4 linked regions of the Homo sapiens genome follow. The protein of the gene in region 4 purifies or fractionates together with the protein of the main gene of each other region. This does not show direct contact. Each region holds a gene or a part of one and is shown on either strand. Other genes may lie near its edges.

What was found. Proteins that work in one complex are often made in the same cells at the same time.
Region 1: the proteins of CLASRP (region 4) and ETV3 purify together in Homo sapiens (affinity purification with mass spectrometry; one large-scale study listed by BioGRID and IntAct). This does not show direct contact.
Region 2: the proteins of CLASRP (region 4) and PUM1 purify together in Homo sapiens (affinity purification with mass spectrometry; 2 studies listed by BioGRID and IntAct, with this or other methods). This does not show direct contact.
Region 3: the proteins of CLASRP (region 4) and RBM38 purify together in Homo sapiens (affinity purification with mass spectrometry; one large-scale study listed by BioGRID and IntAct). This does not show direct contact.

What each region holds. Positions count from the first base shown.
Region 1 is NC_000001.11:157,120,759-157,124,895, forward strand, and holds the end of ETV3 (ETS translocation variant 3), read right to left. Parts: coding exon 4,083-4,137; 3' UTR 433-4,082; downstream 1-432. UniProt on the Homo sapiens protein: Transcriptional repressor that contribute to growth arrest during terminal macrophage differentiation by repressing target genes involved in Ras-dependent proliferation. Represses MMP1 promoter activity.
Region 2 is NC_000001.11:30,953,581-30,957,717, reverse strand, and holds part of PUM1 (pumilio homolog 1), read left to right. Parts: intron 1-3,736; coding exon 3,737-4,004; intron 4,005-4,137. UniProt on the Homo sapiens protein: Sequence-specific RNA-binding protein that acts as a post-transcriptional repressor by binding the 3'-UTR of mRNA targets.
Region 3 is NC_000020.11:57,390,089-57,394,832, forward strand, and holds the start of RBM38 (RNA-binding protein 38), read left to right. Parts: upstream 1-1,307; 5' UTR 1,308-1,493; coding exon 1,494-1,730; intron 1,731-2,190; exon of another isoform or gene 2,191-2,308; coding exon of another isoform or gene 2,309-2,404; exon of another isoform or gene 2,405-2,565; coding exon 2,566-2,689; exon of another isoform or gene 2,690-2,968; intron 2,969-3,190; coding exon 3,191-3,245; intron 3,246-4,744. UniProt on the Homo sapiens protein: RNA-binding protein that specifically bind the 3'-UTR of CDKN1A transcripts, leading to maintain the stability of CDKN1A transcripts, thereby acting as a mediator of the p53/TP53 family to regulate CDKN1A.
Region 4 is NC_000019.10:45,044,870-45,049,644, forward strand, and holds part of CLASRP (CLK4-associating serine/arginine rich protein), read left to right. Parts: intron 1-4,775. UniProt on the Homo sapiens protein: Probably functions as an alternative splicing regulator. May regulate the mRNA splicing of genes such as CLK1. May act by regulating members of the CLK kinase family.

The DNA.
Region 1 (4,137 bases), on a different chromosome or scaffold from region 4:
ACCCTAAAAAGGTAATCTGACCTGCTAATGGTTACTCCCCACTTTTCCCTGGTAACCACTAATCTGTGTTCAGTCGCTACAGATTTGCCTATTCTGGACACTTCATGTAAAAGGAATCACGCAATGTGTGGTCTTTTGTGTCTGGCTTTGACATGTACTCTTAAAGAATCTTCACAATAATCTTGAGATAGAAATTTCCACCTAACTTGCGTCTCTGGCTTCAGTTAGTTTTAACTGGTAGCAGCCATTCACTCAAGAAAATGGAAAATCTCCAGAACTGTTAAGAGACCTATTTCCTTACTATGTTGGTACCTGTACAATAGGAATAACAATGCATGAGGGTGGGGGAGCGAGGACGGACTTGGCAAATTCTCTGGCATGACCACCCCAGCACAGTGTATGATGAACAACAAAACCAACTCTCAGCAAACATTACTTAAAAGTATTTTTTTATTTAATTTCTGAGGTAAAATACTTTTTTCTTTCAACTTCCATAACAAAATACAGAGCTATCAGATACCCCTGGAAAAAATATGTATATTATACATATATTTCTATAACATTACATCATATATATATAATATATATGCAAAAATTTGAAGACTTTATAGAAAGCGGAACATCTAAAAGGCACTGCACAATGGAGTTAAGATTACTTACATTTTATGTACATATACACACTTTACTCTGCTCAAGCAGGTAACTAGTGAAGTCACCTTTCACATGTAAATGTCTCATTCACAAATCCCTGCATCACAATTCTATAACTCAAAGAATGCTTAAATATCTCAAAACAAATTAACTGGTAACTTTTTATCCCCCTAAGAAGAAACCAAGAATGGAACAGTTCTTGAAAGATTGAATCAAAGTTGTCTTCTAAACAAAATAAAAATGTACGTTCCATTACTGTTTACAAAACAAAAAGCACAAACATAATTATGGAATAAATAAAAAACAAGGGACAAACAGCCAACTGACTCTACCCACTTGGTGAGAAGTGATATACTTCAACTATTTTTTTAATGCTTCTGAAAGTTTCTTGGCCCACAGAGGACTAGGGTGCAATCATTCCCTGTGTTAGTGAGTTGGGTTTAATGCAGCTTCAAAATTAGGGTAAAGGGACTTGGTGAAATGTTTACATTAAATATTTCACTCCTACCCATTCTTCAGGAAAAAAGGTGAGCTCAGCAAGGCTGGATGCCATTAAGAGATATTTACTGTTTTCTTTTTCTATAGCTAAAAAAGCAAACTTTACACGAAGAAGCTCTTGATTAAGGAAATTTCAATAGATTCATATTTATAAAATTTTAAACATTTGGCACAGCAAAATTTGGAAAAAATGGGGGAGAAAAAATAGGTCTGGTTGTTGTCCCCCTTTTTCCACCTGCTGCTGGACAGTGATGAGATGCTCACAGAAGAAAAAGGCCTGGCTTTGTACCAGGCTGGCGACAGGTGCTACCAGGAGTGGGCTGAGGGGAGAAAAACTATCTCCCACTCTTTTGGCCCAGGCAATGTCAACGACTTCCACATTCCCTGGCCCACTTCCTGAGCAACCCCAGGTTCGGCTCTGTATAAGGACCCTCCCCTCCCAACCCCAACCCCAGAGTGCAGTGCAAATCAACCAACAATTTACTGGTGGAATGGCAATCAAAGGAAACAGTTAAACACCAAACAATTTCTTAAAGCCAAAAAATATTTTTCATGGAGTTGAACATTTTTCGAGTGTGTTTTTTTCAAGTGTAAAAGCAGTGACATTTTGTTCAAACAGAAGCAGCATCTAGGAATTCTGGCACTTGGGTTCTAGGGGGTTACAGGTATGCATCATGGATTCTTCTCCCTCGTATTTAAAAAGGCCTCGTGTTTCTATTCCTGAGTTCATACCAACACCTGCTAGCTCTCCCCTCTAGCGGACAGTGGGTGGCCAGCCAGCCTCCCTGGTTAGATTGGGCAATGCCAAGCAGACATCCCTCATTCACCTGCTGGGCTTGCTTTCTGATTCAGAGGTAAGTCGAAGTGCAGAGAAAGAAACTTACAAAAGCACAACCACCAAAGGCAGCCTGAACGGGGAGCCCTGTGCAGACTGAGTTGCTGGAGACTACCCTCTCAGTCCCATTCCTGGGGAAAGGTAGGTCACTCATGGAATTTGAATCAAACATGGGGGAGGACACCTGCCAAGCAATAGTATGATGGACTCAAGTCATCCCAGGCCATCTACTGTCTCCCTCACCTGCCCTAACCTTTTCTGAGTCCCTCCCTCTCTTGTGCAAGCACTGTAGTTTAAAAAGGAAAAAACACCCCCCACCATTAAAAGACAACCTTCAAATGTTACTCAGTATATAAAGTTTGCTTAGGCTAAGGTGGAGTCAGAAATGTCTCTAATTGTAGACACCATCTCTGTGCCACCCTTCCTCTCATCGGATATGGAGTGATTTCTTCTCTCGCTGCTGCGACGCAGATCTGAGCCACAGTCAGGTACCAATGTACACGACATAGGCACATGTGCAAACACAAAGAAGGTGGGCTGCTGCTTCTTTCTCTCTGCCCCTAGTCCAGGCTCCTTTGCTTCACGTAAGATTAACACTTTCCCATTCCTCTGAAGTTGCTGGAAGGACATTTCCCAGGAAGAAACAATTCCTCACTGCCTATAAACTGTAGTCTCATGTGGGATAGTCAATTGAACATGAGAATCAGAACAATCTGGGCAAATGGGTATGGCAAGAATGGGAACACCACAACAGGACAGATGCCAACTCTCATTCATGCCAGGCCTTTTGGCATCTGGGTGCCTTCTGTGTCTTCTTTCCACCTCTTCCTTCAGTCTCAACATCCACTTGTACCCCCAGCTACCTCCCATGTTTCCAGGTATCATTGGCTCTTAACTCCCACAAGCCTGCCTTTTGGCTACCCATCCCAACAATATCAAGAGGGAATGACTAAGTATCAGCTAGAAACTTAGCCATGTCTCAACATTCCTGGATTATCTGAAAAGCTGTCGATGCCCTTTTACAGGTTTATGGTGACAGACCCGTATCATCTTAAAGTATGTTCATAGTTAAGGCTTGACTTAAGAAAATAAGAGAACCAGACATAATGGAAAGACCTCTTCAATAATGTTGTCATGCCTCTCAGTGAACGTGCTCACAGTCACACTTGGTTTGGCTCCCCAAACCCACAATAGAAAAGGAAAAATGAGTATTTTGTTTTTCATCTGTTTTGTATTTAAAGGCATTGGGTTACTTCCTCCTGCCCTCTTTTCTTCCCTGAACAAGAGTTTACAACTCCTCATGGCTTCTTAATAGGTGAAGTAGGTGAAAAGTCTGAGAAGCTCACAGCAGGGTTTGCCGTCCCAACTATGCAGCTGAGAGGTCGCCAGCTCCTGTGCCTTCCCAGCCCCACTATAATTGGCAGTATGTTTGTTCATGTTTCCTGAAAACATTTTCTTTAAAAAGGAAAAGAAAAAAATGCCAAACAACACCAACCAAAAAAAAAAAAAAAAAAAAAAGAAGGAAGAAGAAAAAGAGCAACATCCAAACATTCCCCAAGCCCCACCCCAGTAAGTCTGAGATTATCTTATTCCTTCCCTGAAATAATTATAAAGAAGCATTTCAGGCAAAATACTTAGTATTAATGGTCTCTTACTGCTCAACCTCCCAACCATGCCCTTTTCCCTTTTATGTGTATCTCTTGGAGTAAAATAAATTCATTAATGGCTTTCCACATACAAATACAATAGAAAAGAAAGAAGTCTGGAACCTGACTATCATGGGACCAAAAAGTATCTTGGCCCTTTGGGAGTTTCCTTGTCAGAAAGTATAAGCCTCAACAGGAAATAGAGGCTCCTTCTCCTTTGAGTTCAATACCCTCCCTGTGTCCTACTCACCAGGAAAATAAGTGTGTTCATATCCCACCTAATTTACAACAGAAGATAACCCCATCCCATCCCCAAAACATAAAAATACAAGTCTATGCCCCTAGAATGATCAAACCAGTTTAACTCCCTCCCCCCCACCCTGAAATCTTGCTACATAAATACATGTATGTATTTGATTATAGTATAAACAGCTCCTAATCCACTTCCAGTTCTAAGCATCAGCAGCTGCTGTTGCCAAGCCCTGGGGTCCTGACCCATTCCAGAGA
Region 2 (4,137 bases), on a different chromosome or scaffold from region 4:
CAAGTAAATGATAACATTTGACGTAGCATGGGCATGACATACTACATGACCACTGGCAGAAATCCCTTATATACAATTATGCAAAATAGCTGAAGCACTTATTAATTTAAATAAAACATTTAAGCCCTTACTCTCTGTGGAAAGTTGTCATAGGACACACTCCTATGAAATCCACCACTGTCCCTTTGAAGCCTTATGAGAAATGTTTCTTTTAAAACAGTTGCAAATTTAAACACTTCCAGAGTGTTGCACCCAAACCCCCAGAGCTATAGTGGTTTGGGTGCAAGTACATGTTGGTATTCAGACTATTGTGAATCGGAAAGCACATTTGTGCATTCGCCATCTAAATGAGATTCAGTCAACAAATACTTACTGATGGTCAGATATTTATTTACTATTTGTCACGCATTTTTTTCAAAAACAAGATATTACAATTTAGAGCAAAAATTTAAGCTTTGGCTTAATGTTGAAAGAAGTACTGCTTGGCTCAAACAAAATATGTCTGTGAACTGTCAGTTTGCCATTGCCATTTATAATTTAGTACCTAGGAAAATTTCACTTCAGAGATGTCTATATTTCTTAGTAATAAAAGCTGTGTGTGTGTGTGTGTGTGTGTGTGTGTGTGTGTGTATGAATGTCCTTGTAGTATGTACTTGTCTGACATCTAAGGAGATAAGAGGCAAAAATCAAAACTTCACGGTAAATGTATTAACCGTTTTTGTAGGCGTATTAACTGTTGTTCAGTCCAGTCCTGTGTGTGGATTAGTCATTATGTTTTTGCCCATAATAACAGAACATCCAACAAAGAGTGGCTTAAACAATAAGTGCATTTATTGGCCTTTATAACTGGAAGTATAGTGGTAGGGCAGTGTTCAGGGTTGGTTTGTCTTGTCATTAAACATTGTCACCAAGGACCTGGCTCCTTTATAATTTACCTTCCATTTTGGTCAGTGACCAGTTTCTTAAAATCCCTTTAAATTGTTTTCAAAACATTGTGTGTTCGCCCCATACCTTCTTCTTTGGTATGTTTGTTGCTATTGCCACACTTTCCCCATACCTGCCAACCTACCCTGTTACCACCTCTTTGTCCATTTCTCCCCAGCCTCAGACAGGTAAGACAGAATTGTTTCTGAAATGGAATAAAGAACAGTCTTGGCCGGGCGCCGTGGCTCATGCCTGTAATCCCAGCACTTTGGGAGGCTGAGATGGGCGGATCACATGAGGTCAGGAGTTTGAGAGTAGTCTGGCCAACATGGTGAAACCCCATCTCTACTAAAAGTACAAAAATTAGCCGGGCGTGGTGGTGCACACCTGTAGTCCCAGCTACTTGGACGGCTGAGGTGGGAGAATTGCTTCAACCTGGGAGGCGGAGATTGCAGTGAGCTGAGATTGCACCATTGCACTCCAGCCTAGGTGACAGAGCAAGACTCCGTCTCAAAAAAAACAAAAAACAAAACAAAAAAAAACAGTCTTATGACTGCTGTTTTCTTTTCAGTTAATCTCCTTTCTTCCTTAAAAAAATCACTTTTCATTTGAATTCAGAAATACTGTGGAATTTGACAAGAATGTTCTGTAGAACAAGAAAACTTGATGAAACTGAGTCAGAAAATGAATTTCAGACCCCGAAAGGGCCTTGACCCTGGAGTCAAGAGCCCTGTTCTGAATTCTGGCCATGACAATTTTGGGTTTTGTATCTTTGGATGAACATTTCACCTCTCTGGGCTTAATTTTCTGTTACATAAATGGGAGTTGCAAACTCCTTTTCCAAAATGCCAGTGAGAATTCCAGAGAAAGTGTATATGAAAAACTTCTAACATAGAATTGGGCTTAGGACAAATACTAAGTAAATATTTTACAAATTTCTGCATTGAGTCATTTTCTTTTGGTTTCATCACTTTGATTGAGACCCAGACTTTTGAAGCTGGGCCCTGGAATTCTGTGAAGTCCAGCCTGGGTATCTTTTTGTGGCTACCATTAAACCCCAAACCAGACATTTATTAAGACTTGTGAAGAGTTGAGAAGTAGTTAATATTGGATGACTTTTCTCGTGGGTTTTTAATTGTTATTCATCTAAACTTTTTGTGGTTTATGTAATATTTCTTACCTCCTTTGGCCTTTTGTTTAAAAGGAGGTGGGGGAAACAACCCCAGAAAGGCTTGGCATCTTTTTTCTATTGCAATCAAAATTTAAAATGAAATAAAATAAGAACTGTTTTTTGTTTTGTTTTGTTTTGGTTTGGTTTTTTTTTTTTTTCAGATGGAGTCTTGCTCTGTCGCCCAGGCTGGAGTGCAGTGGCACAATCTCGGCTCACTGCAAGCCCTGCCTCCGGGGTTCGCCATTCTCCTGCCTCAGCCTCCCAAGTAGCTGGGATTACAGGCACCTGCCACCACGCCCAGCTAATTTTTTTTTTTTTTTTTGTATTTTTTAGTAGAGTCGGGGTTTCACCGTGTTAGCCAGGATGGTCTTGATCTCCCGACCTTGTGATCGGCCCGTCTCAGCCTCCCAAAGTGTCAGGATTACAGGCATGAGCCACCGTCCCTGGCCTGTTATTTTGTTATTTTAAAATACTCATAATTTATTATGCTGCTATACTGTTTTTTTCTGTTTGTTTGTTTTTGTTTTTTTTTGTTTGTTTGTTTGTTTTTTTTGGAGACAAGGTCTTGCTCTGTTGCCTAGACTGGAGTGGAGTGGTGCAATCATGGCTTACTGCAGCCTCGACCTACTGGGCTCAGGTGATCCTCCTATCTCAACATCCCAAGTAGTTAGGACTACAGGTGTGTATCACCACACCCAGCTAATTTTTATTTTTTATTTTTTTTTAGAGATGGGGTCTCTCTCTGTTGTCCAGGCTGGTCTCGAACTCTTAGGCTCAAGCCATCCTCCTGCTTCGACTTCCCAAAGTGTTGGGTTTACAGACATCAGCCACCACGCCTGGCCTGCTATATGTTTTGATACGCCTTTTGGTCATATGTTTGTTTTATCTGTGATTCACAATTATTCCCTTGTCACCCATCAAAACAGCATTATCAGTGGCATGAAGGTTGTTGGAACTACAGTCATTTCAGGCTGTGTCACAATAGAAATTGTTAAGAGCTGTCCATTTGTAATGAAAACTCGAAAATTTTTCATTTTTAAGGCATCTCCTGTCTTGTACTCATTATGTCTCATCCATGGCCTGGAATGTCTTAGCGATTTTCACACTTCTATTTAGTGGCAAAATCATTCCTTCAAAGACAGCTTTTTCATGGGATCCCCTGTATAAAACAGACCAATCTGGATGCCTGATTTTTTAGAGTGGGTTTCAGATGGAAATGGGGGTTATTCAAGAATGAAAGGAATCTCCGCAGATCTCAGAATGGAAAACCACTCCAGTCTGAGTTTGTTTTGCATTTTCTGAGTTTTTATTGCTGGTGCTCAGGTGCTAGGTTCACCTGGTCGGCACATTTCTTCCTCATTTCATTTACTAGGGGCCATGCTAACTGTTGCTCCAGCCTTACTAGCAGTCTACCATCAACGGTAAAAGCATTCCCTTCTCAATCTTTGTGCAAAAGTTTCCTTCCAGGTTGTTGAGTTGACCCACGAAAGTCATGACGCTAATAGAATTGTCTTGACACAAAAACAACAGCATTGAAGAAATCAGAAATGGTGCAGGCTTTCGGGTGTGGGAATGCTTTTTTCTCTCTTGAATGAAGTTGCTGAAGAGTGGTCTTAAGTTATCCTGTTCTGTAACCAACAGGAGGACTCACGAATGGCAGTGGAAGATACATCTCTGCTGCTCCAGGCGCTGAAGCCAAGTACCGCAGTGCAAGCAGCGCCTCCAGCCTCTTCAGCCCGAGCAGCACTCTTTTCTCTTCCTCTCGTTTGCGATATGGAATGTCTGATGTCATGCCTTCTGGCAGGAGCAGGCTTTTGGAAGATTTTCGAAACAACCGGTACCCCAATTTACAACTGCGGGAGATTGCTGGACATATAATGGAATTTTCCCAAGACCAGCATGGGTCCAGGTGAGTACTTGGCTTTGGCACTTTAAGGTACCCGAAATTGTAATGCCTTAACTGTCTTGGCTCAGATGGGTATCTACTTAAATAAATTGCCATATAGTAATTTTTTAAAAGCGTGCCTCTTAGTTTGCATCAC
Region 3 (4,744 bases), on a different chromosome or scaffold from region 4:
AGGGGGCGGGCAGACTCCTCCCCGCCGGCAGCCAGGGCAGAGGGCTGGAGGAAACGCGGAGAACTCCTCGGTGCTGGAGGAAACGAGGGGAACTCCTCGCCGGCCTTGCGGTCCCCCACAGCCCACGGAGTGCCACTCCCAGTCCCCACAGACCCCACCTGCGTCGCCCTGTGCTGAGAGGAGGCCGCAGGGCTGGGGCCGGGAGTGACCCCAATTAGAGCTGCTGTTTCCCAGCTGCATAGGTCCCAACCGCGGGGGCTGGAGATGAGGCGGGCTTGAGGCCCCTAGTCCCGGCTTCAGAGGTGGAGGGTGTGACCCGCAGGTCCGGGATCCCGGGGTCTGTGCAGTCACACGGCCCTTCCCTTCGCTCAGGAAAGCCCGGGGCTGAGTTTCATGCTCAACCGCTGCCAACTTGAAATTCCTAGCTTTTGAATAAGGGGCCCCGCGTTTGCATTTTGCACTGGGCCCCGAAAATTCTGTGGCTGGCCCTGCCTGGTGTGAAGCTCACAGAGCCCCACTATGCGCCGCCTTTCTATGGCTGGGGGCCGGATGAGGGACCCGGGTCTGCTCTTACTCGCCCCAAGGGTCCCTGACACCAGCCCAGAACGGGGTGGAGCTGGAAAGAGCCCACACCTGCTTCCTCTGCCCACCTCATCTCCCGCGGGGCCTCTGAGACCGCCCGGGACCCGCTTCTATCGCGGCACCGTGGTGTAGCTCCCTCCGGGGTCGTATGCTGTATGTTTACTAGCCGAATTCTCAGTCCTGGACGCTCCGTGGGGCCAGGGAATATGATCTGTGCTCCGCTGCAGCCTCGCGCCCAGAGTAAATATCGGTCGGATGAACTAATCTTACATATAAAACAGAAATCATTTCCCTTTTTTAATATGGCACGTGGCTCTTCCCTAAGTCGCCCTGGGTTAAATACCGACTCAATTAACAAGATGCTAAAAACCGTTTACGTTTTTTTACGTTTTTTACGTTTAATTCACCAGACGGTGCGCTCCACGAGGGAAGGGGCCTGGCCTCCCTAGTTCAGGGTTGTGCTTAGTGCCTGCAACCGGCCGGGCCCGCGGGGGCAGCCAGGAGAGAAAGGCGCGCCCAGCGCCCCCAGGCCCGGATCCGCCCTCAGCCCGCGTGCGCTCCCCTCCCCCCTCCCCCCAATCGCCGCGCGCCCGGGTGCGGCTGGGCGGGGTTAGAACTACGCTTCCCGGCGGTCCCCGCGCGCCCGGGGCGGGGCGGGGCCGGCTGGGGGCGGGGCTGAGCTGGCGGGGGCGGCAGGCTACAAAGCCCGGGGGCGGTGCCGGGGCGCAGAGTCCCCGCAGCGCCGGTCGGGAGCGCAGCGCGGCGCACGTCGGCGCGCACGGCGGGACGGGCGCCGGAGTGGTCGGGCCTGGCGGCTGGACGGGCGCCCCTCGCTGCCCCGCGCGCTCCCCGCCGCCCCCCATGAGCGCAGCCCCGCGCGGCCCGGGTCCGTAGGCGGCGGGGCGCCCCCCATGCTGCTGCAGCCCGCGCCGTGCGCCCCGAGCGCGGGCTTCCCGCGGCCCCTGGCCGCCCCCGGCGCCATGCACGGCTCGCAGAAGGACACCACGTTCACCAAGATCTTCGTGGGCGGCCTGCCGTACCACACTACCGACGCCTCGCTCAGGAAGTACTTCGAGGGCTTCGGCGACATCGAGGAGGCCGTGGTCATCACCGACCGCCAGACGGGCAAGTCCCGCGGCTACGGCTTCGTAAGTGGCCCCCGCGCCCGGGCCCGCACCCCGCCGCACACCTTATCGCGGCCCGGGCGCCGAGTCCACTCCGGGGCACACGCCCAGACGGCCCGCTGCCGCCCCCGCCCCAGGCGCCTCCAGCCGGCGCCCGCACCTGCCGCCTCTCCCGGGCGCGCTCCTGCCGGTCCCGCCCCCACCACCCCAGGCCCCGGCCCCCACCCCCACCCCCACCCCCACCCCCACCCCCGGTTTAAAAGGAAGAGCCGCTGTGTTCAATTAGGACTCCTAAGTTGGTGGGGAGGTTTTGGAGCCAGAGGGCACTCGGGATTTCCTGGAGCAGCGGGGGGTGAGGAGCAATGGCTCCACCCCGGGGTGTTAGGAGCTCTTCGGCCTCCCCCATATTTTTAACAGCCCTCTCAGCCGCCCCAAATAAACATCAGCTTAAGTAAAAACGTCTTGAAGACACTTTCCTGCTTACCTTCCAAGCATAGCGTCGCAAACTCCTTCTCAGAGGAAAGTCTCGGCCCTCACTGGTGGGCAAGTCCAGGCGGCCCCCCAAGCTCCCTTCGGGGTTCATTTTTGCCCTATCCCCGCAGGGGATTATTTTTGTCCTTGAAGGCCACATTTCCCAGGCCTTGAACTTTGACGGGAGGAGCTGGAATCCAGGAGGCATCTTTGTGGGAGAGCCCCAGGTAGGGTTCAGAGGAGCTTTGGCTCAAGGACCCTGGGTCACAGGCACCCTCAGAGGAAGGGAAGAGAGGGGTGGCAGCATCCGGTGCCAGGGCGGAGCCGTCTGCCCCTTTCGCCCCTGGTTCCCCCCACGGCAGCCCCTGATGTGTCTCTGCTCCACCAGGTGACCATGGCCGACCGGGCGGCAGCTGAGAGGGCTTGCAAAGACCCGAACCCCATCATCGACGGCCGCAAGGCCAACGTGAACCTGGCATATCTGGGCGCCAAGCCGCGGAGCCTCCAGACGGGTGAGAGCTTGTGTTTTCCTGCCTGGCTCTTCTCGGTTTCTATATTGGGTGTCGGTATCTGTCGGGTGGAAAGAGGCCCCCCCTCCTCGCCCCAGCAGTGGCAGTCGGCTATCATGTGCCTGCAGAGCCGGCACAGGGCAGCCATCCCCCCCTCGAGGATCTAGACCCCTTCTCACAGCGTGTGGCCCAAAGAAGGGGGCGGGGGGCAGGGAGGGTACTGCACCCCAGTTGCCAGCTGTCCTCGCAGGAGGGAGGAAGTGGCCATGGGGCCTGGAGGTTGGGAGTGCCGACACCAGTGGCTGCTGACACCTGCGTCACTCACTGCCACACTTCAGCGGTGTGCCTTGGGGTTCACAAGGGGGAGGCCTGGGAGGGGAGAGGAAGCGGATGATCCCTTTTGACTAGAGGTGTGTGGCTTGTGGGATTCTGCCACCCTGTGTGCAGCCCTTGAGACGTGGCTCGTGCAGCAAGGCCAAGTCCCTGATTGTTCTCTCGTTTTAGGCTTTGCCATTGGGGTGCAGCAGCTGCACCCCACCTTGATCCAGCGGACTTACGGGTGAGTGGACATGGCTGGCTTGGGGTGGGTAGTCCGTGGAGATGAAGTGGAGAGGGCCTTGGGCTTCCTGGGTCTGGAAGGCTGGGGAAATGACAGTTTTCAGACATTTGATTGCGTTTAAGCCAAGGGAGTGAAGAGAAGGCAGATTGCACTTCTCCATCCCTGGCAGAGGCCATACCACCTAGGGGATGGTGAGCCTTGGAGCCTGCCTGCCTTGGTACACACCCCAGCTCCCTTCGCTAGGTGTGTGGCCTCAGTTTCCTCACCCGTAAAATGGGAGTGGTCACAGCACATCTGAGTTCTCTGAATGGAGGGCCTAGGGTGGGCCTGGTGCAGGTAACGCCCTCTTGAAGTGTTTGCTGATGACTCTTAGGGACTGGCAGGCTGAGTTCTTCCCCAGGCACTCCTCTCACCTGTTCTAGTGCTGGGGCAGGTGGTGGCAGTAGGTCATTGCTACCAAGGTCTGATGTTTGTGAACGTTGCTGTAGATACGATGTGTTTGGGGTGGAGGCCACCTGCCTGAGTGGCCTGGCCTATGGGCTTCTAGTCTGACTCATTTACAAGCAGCGCAGCCCACTCTTCTCCATCCTAAAACGCCTCCCACCTCCCTGCCCTTTTTTAAAACATCTAGTAAGTCCTGGCAGCTGCTTGGGGAGGGACACACACACTTAAGGGATACAAAGAGTCCTGCCTTGCGGCCTGCCTCCCCACCCCCATGATGGATGGAAGCTGTCTGCCCTAGCGCCGTGGCATATTGATGGGGTTGGAGTTGGAGGGGAAGGCAGCTCAGAGACCACCACCCCTTTCAGGGCATTGGCACTTCATGAACTTTCTGAATCCAAATCCCTAATGCCAGTTGATCACGTGTGTGTGCTCACGCATGTGCGCACCACGTAGATTCCATTGAGAGAGACACAGCTTGAGGAGTAACCTGCCTGACTGGGGCAGTGTGGACAAGGATCCTGTGGAACCCGGCTGAGCCTGGCTCCCAGGTGAATGGGTCCCCTGGGGCCTGGCTCCCAGGTGAATGGGTCAGAGGCCCCAGCAGAAGTTGCTGTGCCCACTTTTTGGGAACGCTTGGGGTGACTCGGGGGCTCCCTGCCGGCTTCCGTGTGTATTGGTGGATGTGTGCAAGTGTAGCAGTGGGAGGAGCCGCTGGCTGAGGGGTGCTGGAGGGTGGCCGGGGCCCTTCTAGCCTGTGCGAGTGGCCGGGCAGCTCAGGTTCCTGCCGGGGTGCCTCTGTCCTCCTGGGAAGGGAGCGTGTAGGGTGGTGGGAGCAGGCGGCCCTGTCCGTCTCGTCCTGGAATCTGTTTTGTAGATGTCTAGAGTCGTCTTAGAGGGTGTTTGGGGACACTGTAGCCTTCATGCCTTCACCGAGATTCTTCCTATGGGGTTCAGGCCACATGAAGAGGGTGTTCCTTGTTTTCCAGAACCTTGGCTCCATTCCCCAGGCCCACAGCAGGCGCCTGGGGGCATGGACTGGGCGGGAGCAGCTGCCC
Region 4 (4,775 bases):
TAGCGATCCCACTTATCTATAGTGTGACGTGGGCAAGTGACTGCCTCCCTGAGCCCATTTCCTCTTCCACATGTGAAAGGATGTCACATGGACAATCAGCTTTGGCTCTAACAAACCTAGAGCATCCGTCAGTGGCTTAAACAAGATAGATGTTTATTTCTTAGCCACAGAAAAGCCAAGAGGTAACCAGTTAGCTCGGGGACCTAAGCCGCTTCTGTTTTGTTCTCCTGGGCACAGCTTCTCTTCCTAGTGTTGCATCGAGGTCTAAGAGGCTCTGGCCATCATGTCTTCATTCTATCCAGCAGGGAGGAAAAAGGGAGGAAAAGGGGCAAAGCGCTCATGCCATTTGTTGAGAAAGTTTCTAGGCCAGGTGCAGTGGCTCACGCCTGTAATCCCAGCACTTCGGGAGGCCGAGGCAGGAGGACTGCTTGAGCCCAGGAGTTCGAGAACAGCCTGGACAACATGGTGAAACCCCGTCTATACCAAAATATACAAAAATTAGCCGGGCATGATGGCGTGCATCTGTGGTCCCAGCTCCTCAAGAGGCTGAGGTGGGAGAATCTCTTGAACCCAGGAGGTGGAGGCTGCAGTGAGCTGTGATTGTACCACTGCACTCCAGCCTGAGTGGGAGAATAAGACCCTGTCTTTAAAAAAAAAGTTTCGGGATGTTTTCCCGTAACATTTCCACTCCTCCCCTGCTGACCAGGAAGTAGTCTTATGAACAGCCGTGAGGAAGGCTAAGAGGTGTAGACTTTATTTTGGGTCGCCCTGACCAGATATATTTGGAGTTCTGTTACTGTTGTAGCAAAGGGAATAGATGTTGGTTGCCAATTAATGGTTTGCCACTAACAGTGGAGACAAGAGCATGTCCTTCGATGTTGTTGGAGTGTTGGACACATGGACCACTGAGAGCAGCCTGGCCAGCGTCGCTATCGCTCAGTAAATATTAGCTCTTGTTATTGACATTACTGTTGCTGATAGAACTGGAGTTTGGATCCAGGTGGAGGGATGGTGCAGAGGAAGGAAGGCTGGAGCTGAGACTCCAGGCCCCCTCCCTGTTAGCAGGGAAGCTTGCTGCATTGTATTCCCCCTCAGGACAGTGGTGACGACCAACCCCTCTCACTGGATAATGGGGAAGAGCTCAAAGAACCAATGTCTATGGGTGCTTTGTGGTGCAGGCCTGTACAAGCGGCCTTTGTCCCTGTATGTGAACGTGACCTGCATTCCGATCTGGGCTGCCAAGCTGTGGAGTATGGCTGGGCCGTGGCTGATGGCTGCTTTGAGGAGGGGACTCTCATCTCAGCCTTGGGCCGAGAGCAGAGGCTGTGGAGCGAGTGTCAGTGAAGCTGCGGTAGATTGTGGCAGGCTGAATGAGTATGTCCAGATGCAGTTGGTTTCTGTCTTCCTGATTTGTCGTTGGTGCCTGCTTTCTCTCCCTGTCTTCAGTCCCAAGCAGACTCCGGTTCTGTCATTGCTTCTGTCCTTGTCAACTTTCCTTTTTAATCAGTGGTTTGGATAAAGAAACAGAATCCTCTGTTGATACGGAAATAAGAAGTAAACAGGTCGCAGCTCAGGCGTCGCCTCCTCCAGGAAGCTCCAGACTGACCCCCAAGTCTGGGTCAGGTGTTCCCCCTGTGGGCCCCCATCTCAGCGCTGTCCACTCTAGGTTGTCCTTGTATGGGGACAAGTCTGTGTCCCACACTGGACTGTGAGCCCATGAGGGCAGGGCCAGGGCTATCTCAGTTACTGCCATACCCTAGCACAAGGTCTGCTTAACAGTTGAATGAATGAATGAATGAATGAGTAACTTCATGAACTCCTCTGACACAATCTGATCCTAGAGACAGGATAATCCAGTGGTTAAGAGTTGGTTTTGGGCCGGGCGCGGTAGCTCACGCCTGTAATCCCAACACTTTGGGAGGCTGAGGTGAGCAGATCACCTGAGGTCAGGAGTTTGAGACCAGCCTGACCAACATGGAGAAACGTCATCTCTACTAAAAATACAAAATTAGCTGGGCGTTGTGGCACATGCCTGCAGTTCCAGCTACCTGGGAGGCTGAGGCAGGAGAATCGCTTGAACCCGGGAGGCAGAGATTGTGGTTAGCCTAGATCACGCCATTGCAGCCCAGCCTGGACAACAAGAGCAAAACTCTGTCTCCAAAAAAAAAAGTGGATTTTGGATCTTGAAGAGGTACTTATACACTTATGTTCATTACAGCATTATTAGCAATAGCCAAGAGGTGGACGCAAGCTAAATGTCCATTGAGGGATACATCGAGAAAGAAAATGTGGTCTCTACACATAACGCAATATTATTCAATCTTAAAAAAGAAAGAAATCCTGTCCTATGCTACAATATCGATGAGCCCTGAAGATGTTATGCTAAGTGAAATAAGCCAGTCGCAAAAAGACAGTATTGTATGATCCGCTGATAAGTATCTAAAATAGTTAAACCTTGCTTGAGCCCAGGAGTTCCAGGCTGCAGTGAACTGTGATCACACCACTGTACTCCAGCCTGGGTGACAGAGCAAGACTCCATCTCAAAAAAAAAAAAAAAAAAAACAGAGAGAGAGAGGAAGGGAGGAAGGGAGCTCACTTCGGCAGCACATATACTAAAATTGGAACGATACGGGGATTAGCATGGCCACTGTGCAAGGATGACACAAAAATTCGTGAAACCTTCTGTATTTTTGGTAAAGAAAAAAAAACCTAAAAGAAAAGTCAAACCCTCAGAAAAAGAAAATACAGTGCAGGTTGACAGGGATGGGGGGAGGAGGAAAGGGGAAGTTCAGTTTTGTTTCAGTTTTGTAAGATTTAAAAAGTTCTAAAGCTCTGTTGCACCACAGGGTGGATGTAGTTACTACTACTGTACTGTACACTTAAAAATGTTAAGATGGTAAATGTTTTCTACCACAATAAAAAAATTATTCTTGGCCAGATGTGGTGGCTCACACCTGTAATCCCAGCATTTTGGGTGGCTGAGGCAGGCAGATCACCTGAGGTCAGGAGTTGAAGACCAGCCTGGCCAACGTGGTGAAATCCCATCTCTACTAAAAATACAAAAAATTAGCCAGGCAGGTTGGTGCATGCCTGTACTCGGGAGGCTGAGGCAGGAGAATCGCTTGAACCTGGGAGGCGGAGGTTGCAGTGAGCCGAGATCATGCCATTGCACTCCAGCCTGGGCAACAAGAGTGAAACTCTTGTCTCAAAACAAACAAACAAAAAATTACTCTTAAAAAGCAAATAAATAAAAAGAAGCAGATTTTGTAGTCAGGCCCATCTGGGTTCAAATCCTAGTTCTGCTTATTCCTAATGTCAGGCAGGTGGACCCCATGGCTTTGAGCCTCAGTTTACTCATCTGTAACATGGGCATAAGAATAGTACCTGCTGGGCGTGGTGGCTCATGCCTGTAATCCCAGCACTTTGGGAGGCCGAGGCGGGTGGATCACGAGGTCAGGAGTTCGAGACCAGCCTGGCCAACATGGTGAAATCCCGTCTCTACTAAAAATACAAAAAATTAGCCAGGCATTTTGGTGCATGCCTGTACTCGGGAGGCTGAGGCAGGAGAATCGCTTGAACCTGGGAGGCGGAGGTTGCAGTGAGCCGAGATCATGCCATTGCACTCCAGCCTGGGCAACAAGAGTGAAACTCTTGTCTCAAAACAGACAAACAAAAAATTACTCTTAAAAAGCAAATAAATAAAAAGAAGCAGATTTTGTAGCCAGGCCCATCTGGGTTTGAATCCTAGTTCTGCTTATTCCTAATGTCAGGCAGGTGGACCCCATGGCTTTGAGCCTCAGTTTACTCATCTGTAACATGGGCATAAGAATAGTACCAGCTGGGCGTGGTGGCTCATGCCTGTAATCCCAGCACTTTGGGAGGCCGAGGCAGGCGGATCACGAGGTCAGGAGTTAGCGACCAGCCTGGCCAACATGGTGAAGCCCTGTCTCTACTAAAAATACCAAAATTAGCCAAGCGTGGTGGCGGGCACCTGTAATCCCAGCTACTCGGGAAGCTGAGGCAGGAGAATCCCTTGAACTTGGGAGGCAGAGGTTGCAGTGAGCCGAGATCGCGCCATTGCACTCCAGCCTGGGTGACAGAGCGAGACTCTGTTTCAAAAAAAGAAAAAGAATAGTATGTTTCTTCCATGGTTGGGACATTCGAGTGAGACAGTGCACATAAAACAGTGCCTGGTTTTTAGTAGGGTTCATTGACTTTTCCAGAATCTCCCAACAGAACCAGGCTCTGGACTCCTGGTGTTTACTCCCGGCTCAGTGCTTATTCCTTTCTGTGAAGCTGACCCTGCCAGTAGCTTCCCTGTACCTGCCAAATTCTGTCCTGCAAACAGTGTCCCATGAGTCCTGGCTGTGGGAACTGGGCATTTGGCCTGGAGCAGCCTCAGGAGTATGATGGGATCTTGGCCTTGGACTTGGCTGGCTTGTCCCAGGGCAGAGGGAGCTGGGTGCGCTGTGTGGCCCCAGCTGAGGAATCAGCTAAGGAATCGAGGGAGGCAGGCGAGGTGCAGCATGAGTAGCTGGACTCCAGCAGCGCCACCTCGCTGGGCCTGTGGTCTTGAGTGTTCCTTAGACTCAGTTTCTTTAGGTGTGAAATGAGAGTCACAGCAGCCCAGCACCTGGCACATAGTGAGTGCGGGGTTGAAACTAGCCAGGTATTAGCTGTGGTCCTGGTGAGTGACTCAGCTCCTTCAGCCCGGACTGCACCTTCTCATCTGCTGGCTGAGGGCTGAGATGGAGACAGAGTGAGGATGTGCAGGA